Homo sapiens: one gene and its partner. The protein of the gene in region 1 interacts with the protein of each later gene in a pairwise test. Each region holds a gene or a part of one and is shown in the gene's direction. Other genes may lie near its edges. The genes, in order: MPI and BDKRB2.

What was found.
Region 2: the proteins of MPI (region 1) and BDKRB2 interact in a two-hybrid assay, tested with the Homo sapiens proteins (one large-scale study listed by BioGRID and IntAct).

Annotation. Positions count from the first base shown.
Region 1 is NC_000015.10:74,893,001-74,896,814, forward strand, and holds part of MPI (mannose-6-phosphate isomerase), read left to right. Parts: intron 1-137; coding exon 138-320; intron 321-3,151; coding exon 3,152-3,325; intron 3,326-3,814. UniProt on the Homo sapiens protein: Isomerase that catalyzes the interconversion of fructose-6-P and mannose-6-P and has a critical role in the supply of D-mannose derivatives required for many eukaryotic glycosylation reactions.
Region 2 is NC_000014.9:96,211,324-96,215,137, forward strand, and holds part of BDKRB2 (B2 bradykinin receptor), read left to right. Parts: intron 1-3,814. UniProt on the Homo sapiens protein: Receptor for bradykinin. It is associated with G proteins that activate a phosphatidylinositol-calcium second messenger system.

The DNA of each region.
Region 1 (3,814 bases):
GTTTCCACTGCAAAGTTTACTTAGCATTGCCGGCTCTTTGGTTAGGGCTGGGATGGAAAGGTGTCCTCCAACTCCCCACTTGTGTGGGTTCCATCTTACCATTCCTGATATGGGCCCTGGGCCTTGCCTTCCTGTAGAGGTGCCTGAGTTTCAGTTCCTGATTGGAGATGAGGCAGCAACACACCTGAAGCAGACCATGAGCCATGACTCCCAGGCTGTGGCCTCCTCTCTGCAGAGCTGTTTCTCCCACCTGATGAAGAGTGAGAAGAAGGTGGTGGTGGAACAGCTCAACCTGTTGGTGAAGCGGATCTCCCAGCAAGGTGGACACAGTTATATTCCTGGTTGGGTGCAATGCTCTGGCCTGGGCTTCCCAGCAGACACCAGACTCTGGGGACAGTTCTCAACCCCCTTGCCCAAGTGGAACACTAAAAGGGGCCCCACTTAGATGACCTGTTGGCAACTTAGCATTGCTTGCCTAGTCTTTGTGGAGCAGGGCCCTTCTTAGTTGAGTGCTGCTTCCCAACTGGTCATCTTCTCCAGATGGTTGGAGGCAGACTGGCATAGAGGACTCTTAGGATGCCTTCCACCTAGGCATTCTGAGATTTTCCCTAGCCCTGCAGCTGCCCTCCATGGATGGACTTGTATCTCGGGGCTAAAGAGGCAGGAAGGGGACACGAGCATCCTCCCTCTCCTGGAAAGGACTGATGCCTCCAGCACTCAGTCATTTGATCTTTCCTTTACCTTCTGTGTGCCCAACCTTGTGCTAAGAAGAGTTCAGGAAATGACTGTGATGGGTGTGGTCACTGTCACCCTAAAGGTGGGGAGTCAACACAAGCAGTAAGAAACCCAAAACAGAACAGACTCCCAGCAATGAGCTTATGTGGTGCAGGCGATGAGGTCTCAGCTTCTTAGCCTGGCAGCCACAACCCCTTCTCTAGGTGGCCCAGAGCTCTCTTTTTATTTTACCTCTACAGGTTTCCCATTACCTTTGAGCCTTAGGGCATTATTTATTTGACCCAAGCATATTTTTTTCTGTTCAGTGTGTGTGTGTGTGTGTGTGTGTGTGTGTGTGTGTGTGTGTGTGTGTGTGTGTGTGTGTGTGTGTGTGGTCTCTTTCTGTTGCCCCAGGCTGGAGTGCAGTGGTGCGATCTTGGCTCACTGCAGCCTCTGCCTCCCGGGTTCAAGCAATTCTCCTGCTTCAGCCTCCTGAGTAGCTGGGATTACAGGCATGTGCCACCACATCTGGTTAAGTTTTTATATTTTAGTAGAGACGGAGTTTCACCATGTTGCCTAGGCGGGTCTCGAACTCCTGAGCTCAGGCAATTCACCTGCCTCAGCCTCCCAAAGTGCTAGGATTACAGGTGTGAGCCACCACGCCAGGCCCCTTGCCTCACTTTAAAGAAGCCTGGCTGGGCACGGTGGCTCACACCTGTAATCCTAACACTTTGGGAGGTTGAGGCGGCCGTATCACTTGAGGTCAGGAATTCAAGACCAGCCTGGCCAACATGGTGGAACCCCATCTCTACTAAAGATACAAAAATTAGCCAGGCGAGGCAGAGGTTGTGGTGAGCCTAGATCATGCCACTGCACTTCAGCCGGGGCAATAGAGTGAGACTCTGTCTCAAAAAAAAAAAAAAAATGCTGGGCATGGTGGTGTGTGCCTGTAATCCCAGCTACTCAGGAGGCTGAGGCGCAAGAATCACTTGAACCCAGGAGGTGGAGGTTGCAGTGAGTCTAGATTGCACCACTGCACTTCAGCCTGGGAGACAGAGCAAGACTCCGATTCGGAAAAAAAAAAAAGAAAAAGAAAAAGAAAAAAAATTTAAAAATTAAAGAAGTCCACCCTTGCCACTCTACCCAGGCTGAGCTCATTTTCCCTTGTCGTTTCCAGGACACATTTTGGCCCTCAGCGCATTCTGCCTCATGCTCTCTGGAGCAGACCGAGAGAGATTCTCTGAGACATAGAACTTTCTTTTTTTTTTTTGAGACGGAGTCTCGCTGTGTCACCCAGGCTGGAGTGCAGTGGTGCAATCTCGATCACTGCAACCTCCGCCTCCCGGGTTCAAGCGATTCTCCTGTCTCAGCCTCCCGAGTAGCTGGGATTACAGGCACGTGCCACCACACCTGGCTTTTTTTTTTTTTTTTTTTGTATTTTTAGTAGAGATGGGGTTTCACCATGTTGGTCAAACTGGTCTCGAACTCCTGACCTCGTGATCCGCCTGCCTTGGCCTCCCAAAGTCCTGAGATGACAGGTGTGAGCCACCGCGCCCAGCTGAGACACAGAACTTTCAGTGCTAAAAACTAGAAAGTCGCCGGGTGCGGTGGCTCACACCTGTATTCCCAGCACTTTGGGAGGCCTAGGTGGGAGGATCCCTTGAGTTCAGGAGTTCGAGACCAGCCTGGGCAATATAGCGACCCCCTCTCTCTGCAAATAATAAAAAACTTAGCCGGGCATGGTGGCATGCACGTGTGGTTCTCGCTACTCAGGAGGCTGAGGTAGGAGGATTGCTTGGTCCTGGACAGTTGAGGCTGCAGTGAGGTATGATCGTGCCACTGCACTCCAGCCTGGGTGACAGCGAGACCCCGTCTCAAAAAAAAAAAAGGGAAAGCTCGGGCATGTTGGTTACCCTTCATGAAACTCTTTTGCGTTATCTCCCTAGATTTTGAGCTCCAAGGGCAGTGGTTCTCATACAGGGGACATTTGGCTGTTGTCTGGAGCCATTTTTTGATTGTCAAAACCCAGATAGGGGTTGCTAGTGGCATCTTGTGGGTGGAGGCCAGGGAAGCTGCTACACATCCATCAGTACACAGGACAGCCCCCACAATAAAGAATTACCTAGCCCAAATGTCAGTAGCGCCAAGGCTGAGAAATCCCATCCTGAAAGGACCATACTCTAGCTCTTTTAGTGGCTAGTATAGTCCTGGGCATATGAATAGTCAAGATATGATGAAAGATGGTATTTGTATGGACTGGAGTATCAAGCAAGGCTCGACCCCCAAAGGGCTGGAGGCGTGGCCAGAAGGACAGGGCCACTTTGGCTTCTGGATTCCTGTGGCAGGGACCTTTTCCTAGGACTCCCTGGCCAATGTGGGGCTATGAACAGCACTGAGTATCCCCCTAAGTGACCTTGGGGTGCTCTGTGACCCTCAGCGGCTGCCGGAAACAACATGGAGGACATCTTTGGGGAGCTTTTGCTACAGCTGCACCAGCAGTACCCAGGTGATATCGGCTGCTTTGCCATCTACTTCCTGAACCTGCTTACCCTGAAGCCTGGGGAGGCCATGTTTCTGGAGGCCAACGTACCCCATGCCTACCTGAAAGGAGGTGAGCCACATTTCAGCAGTGAGCCCCACTGCCATCCCTGCTGGGCCCTGTTTCCCTATCTGGACAAAGGAAGGAGAAGGGTGGTCAAGGAGACCCCCAAGGACCTTGCAGCTCTGACCTCTGAGGGTTCCTGGGCTCAGCAAGCAACAGCTGGTAGGGATGATGAATGCATTTAGCATTGAACACGCCTTGAATCCTGACACCAACCCTGTGATGCCATGCTACTCTGATTTTAAGTCCTGCCAGTCAGTGTGGGAACCACAATTTGAACGCAGGCTATATTGGATCAAAGCTGTTGTTCTGTCACAGCCTTTGTATGTCTGTCCTACCTACCAGGGATTTTTACACTAAAATATGCATGTTGCCATGGAAGGATGCCACCTTTCGACTGTTGGCTGCTTATCCACACATGCCTCATGCACAGGATTCTGGGGTAGAAGTGGGAGACTACAGAGTTGGGGCTCCCCAACCCCCAGGGGTTAACATGAC
Region 2 (3,814 bases), on another chromosome or scaffold:
CATGCGCTGCTGCACCTGGGGTACATCACCCCCACTCTGGAGCCCACTGGCCGGTTAGCAAAGTGAGAGGTGAGAGAAGGACCTCTTGGTCTTCTTTGAACAGAAAGATCCAGAAAGCAATGGCTAGAACACAAGAACAGGTCAGGGGAGGCAGGAGAGGGTCTGCACACCTGCTACAGGTGTGCTCACACGTGGGCCAGGGCCTGCAGATGAGGGATCTGTGCTGATCATTTGTGATAGCCAAAAGTAGTGAAAACCTGGGGGGACTCCTCAAATGAACTGTAGCACATTGGGGAGATGGACTCTGTGAAGATGATTCCTCTCTCCACCCACTTCCCTTCTCCCTCCTCCTCCCGCTCCTCCTTTTTCGGAAGCCAGGCACAGGGATTGAATCCCACCCCATTCCTCCCCTGCTGTGTGACCTAGGGCAAGAGATGTGGTCTCTGGGATCCTTCGGTTCCTTCAGCTATAAATAGTAGTAGAATTGCAAACTACCTACGAAAACTGGGAACTCCCTGCGAAGGCCGGTGCATTACAGGGCAGTCCTACTCTGAAATACTGTGAGGCTATTGAAAAGCAAGGTGGGTCGACAGATTGTTAAATGCAAAGAGGTGAGGACACAGCCGGCGGTGCATTTAGGGTGCTTCTGCAGGCGTCCTTATACATGGATATGTGCACATCTGCTCCTGAAAGCTCAGAAGATGTCTGGAAAGCAACAGGAGACACCAGTGAGCCTGGCTGTCTCTTGAGGCAACAGGCAGGGACAGAATCTGGAGGGAGACCTACCCCTCACTGTATTCTTTTTCGCACTCTGAAATGTTACCATGAGGATGCATATCTCTTTGCAAAAATTTAAATATAAAAAGCAAAACAAACTTGAATAGAAATAAACTACTTGAAAATTTTAGAAAACACTGTTACATCAAAGAGACAGATCATCAAAACTGAAATTATAGATATTTGAGAAACAACTAACTATAAGAACACTGCTTACCAAACTTATGGGATGCAGCCAAAGCCATAGTCAGGGGATGAGTCATGCCTTTAAATTTTTAAATTATTAAACCAAAAAGATTGCAAAAAAAAACTGTTCAATTCAATAAACTAGATAATAATGATCCAAAAAAGTAGAAGAAAGAAAAGAATTACAAAAACAAAATGACAAGTTAGAAAGGTAAAAAGCATTAATGTCAGTAGGCCATCTAAGGATGGCTCTTTGAAGAGCAGACAGGAGAAGGGCAATCCCAGGAAGTGCTATGTGCTATGCAGAGAATTAGAATAAGTTGATGGCAGAGATCAGTGGGTGGCGGCTCACTTGGGTGGTAAAGAGTAGCCTGCAGCCAAAGTTGGGCACAGCAGTGCAGTCTTCACTGGGGGAATGCCTGGGAAACAAGATTTGCCTGGGTAGGAGTTTCCATCAGCACCCCCAGAAAGGTCTCCTTTCTACCCTGGCCCCCAGTTCTTTGATGGGTTTTGCTGATGCTCCTGTGTCTCTGAACAGCAGGCGCCTCACCTATAGAAAGGTAGGATAGCAGGAGTTAACGCCCCCTCCCCCATTCCATGGCCCCTGCCTGGGATTCTACCATCTCTGCTTCATATGCTTTATAGGAGTTCGGTCTGAGCCCACAACCCAAACAGGCTCACAGATGTGCTAGCTATTTCGCCACCAGTATTTTTTTAATAGTCAATATTTAGAAATTGGCACCAACTGGCCCGATTGTTCAACAGTCCTGGGTTAGGTTACTAGGCCAATTACTTGCTGAGTAACCCAGGACAGGTCACTGACCTCTCCGAACCTCTCCTTTCTCACCTGTGTGATAAAGACTACTGCTGTGCCAACACAATAGGACTGTGTATGAAAGTACCCAGACTGTGCCTAGACTCAGGAAGCTGGTTTATTCCTTCCTCCCCTAACCACTTACTGAGAGACTGCTCAGGGCTCCCCTCAGCTCAGAGATCTTTCCCCACAAGGAGCTGAGAGCCTGGTGGGAGAGACAGGCAGAGACCCAAGTGGTTCTAACACAGCTCTCTGAATCTGTAACCCCAAGTCCCATCCCCAGAGGACACTGGGACAGTCACACTGATGGTTTGTCCCTAAGCCTCCAGCATCAGGAGCCATGTGGCAGGATCTCCACTCTTCTTCTTCCTGGGCCTCTGTCTGGACCGACCCAAACACACACACACACACACACACACACACACACACACACGTGTACACACACAAGTTGCTTCTTTGCTGCCTGCATGTCCTCACACCAGCTTATGACACACCTACAATGTTTGATGTGTCATTGTGGGCAGGTTTCAAGTTGGAGGACCTAGACCTAGGTAAAGTAGAGGGTCTCCCTAAGTAAGGGAGGGTGCACAGTGGAGAGAAAGGGTAGGGGAGACTGCCCAGTGCCATTGACATATGCCTGAGCCCCAGGGCACCCTTGGCCCCCCAAAACAATCACAAGTATCCCCCCCGACAAACCTGCCAAGTAGGCATTGTGTCTCCACTTGACAGTTGAGGAAATGGTCCCTAGAGGGGAGACAGAGCTAGCTAGAGACTGGGCTGGCCCTGGAGCCTGGCCTGGGTCTTCCCATCGCATCCTGCCTCCCTACATAAGCAAAGGTCGAGAGGTGGGAACTCCCAAAGATGCTCAGGCAGGGCCAGGGGAGACCAGTGGGGCAGGGAGGGGACAGGAGGGGAAGGAGGAGCTGGGGCTGGAGAGATGGGTAGGAGCATGAGTCCCTTGCCTGGGCCTCCCCATGGTGGGCGGTGATCCAAAAGCCCCAGTCAGAGCCCTCTGCCCTGTGACGGGGGCACCCTGCATGTCCCCTCACTCCCTGCCCTCCAGTCCCCGCCAGTCCTCATGTTTTCCATGAGGATGAGTACAGCCGCAGGGACTTTCCCTGCAAGTGGTCTGGGCCATATCTTCCGGGAGTCTGTTTGGACTGTGGTGTCTGTGGCTGAGGGGGTGGAGGTGAGGGCACCCAGGCCCATCACTTGACAGAACAATCTGTGGATTTGGGGGAAAGAGGAGGCGACTGTCATTCCTGAGAGAGGACGGGAACCAACAGGAAGGATTCCTGAGTGCCAGGGATGACCACACTGGATCCTCACAACAGCCCTCCTGCCGGGGACAATGCTCCTTATCCCACAAGCGGGGACCTGGGCTCTGACAGGAGGCCACACACTTACAGTCCCTCCCTTAGTGACCGGCAGAGCTGGGATTTGAACACCCCTGGTGAGACTCCCTCGTCCAGACCCCTTCGTTGTACAGCAGGTTTGCCTCACATGCCAGAGTCGGGGTGGCCTCAGGGCACAGCCAGGAGATGTCCCCAAATCCCGAAATGTGGTTTGAGTCCCAGTCCCTCATCTCTCCAGCCTCCAAGCCCTCACCTATGCAATGGTGCCTTGCCCGGCTCACAGGTTATGAAAAGGGGTGAGACGAGACAGTGTCCCCTAAATACATCTGACAGCACTTTTGAATGGAAAAGAGAAAAAGAAAATACTATAAGCATCCAGATTGACTGGAGGTTGGGGAGTTGGTGGGGGCGGGGACAGGCAATCCATAAAGCAAGAAAAATCAGGCTGGGTTCAGGCTTTTCTGCAGCAGCGAATGCATCAGAGCTGCCAGGGGGGCAGCTGTAGACCTAAGAGAGTTCCTTTAAGCACAAATTGGCTGATTATCTTTTTTACGTAAATAAACCCATAATTCATTCCAAACACTTGGCTTATTTAAATATTTTTATTGCCAAAGGAATATATGTTCTTCACAGAAAACTTGGATACCATGACAAACAGTAAAGAAAACCCAAAAGCAACCTA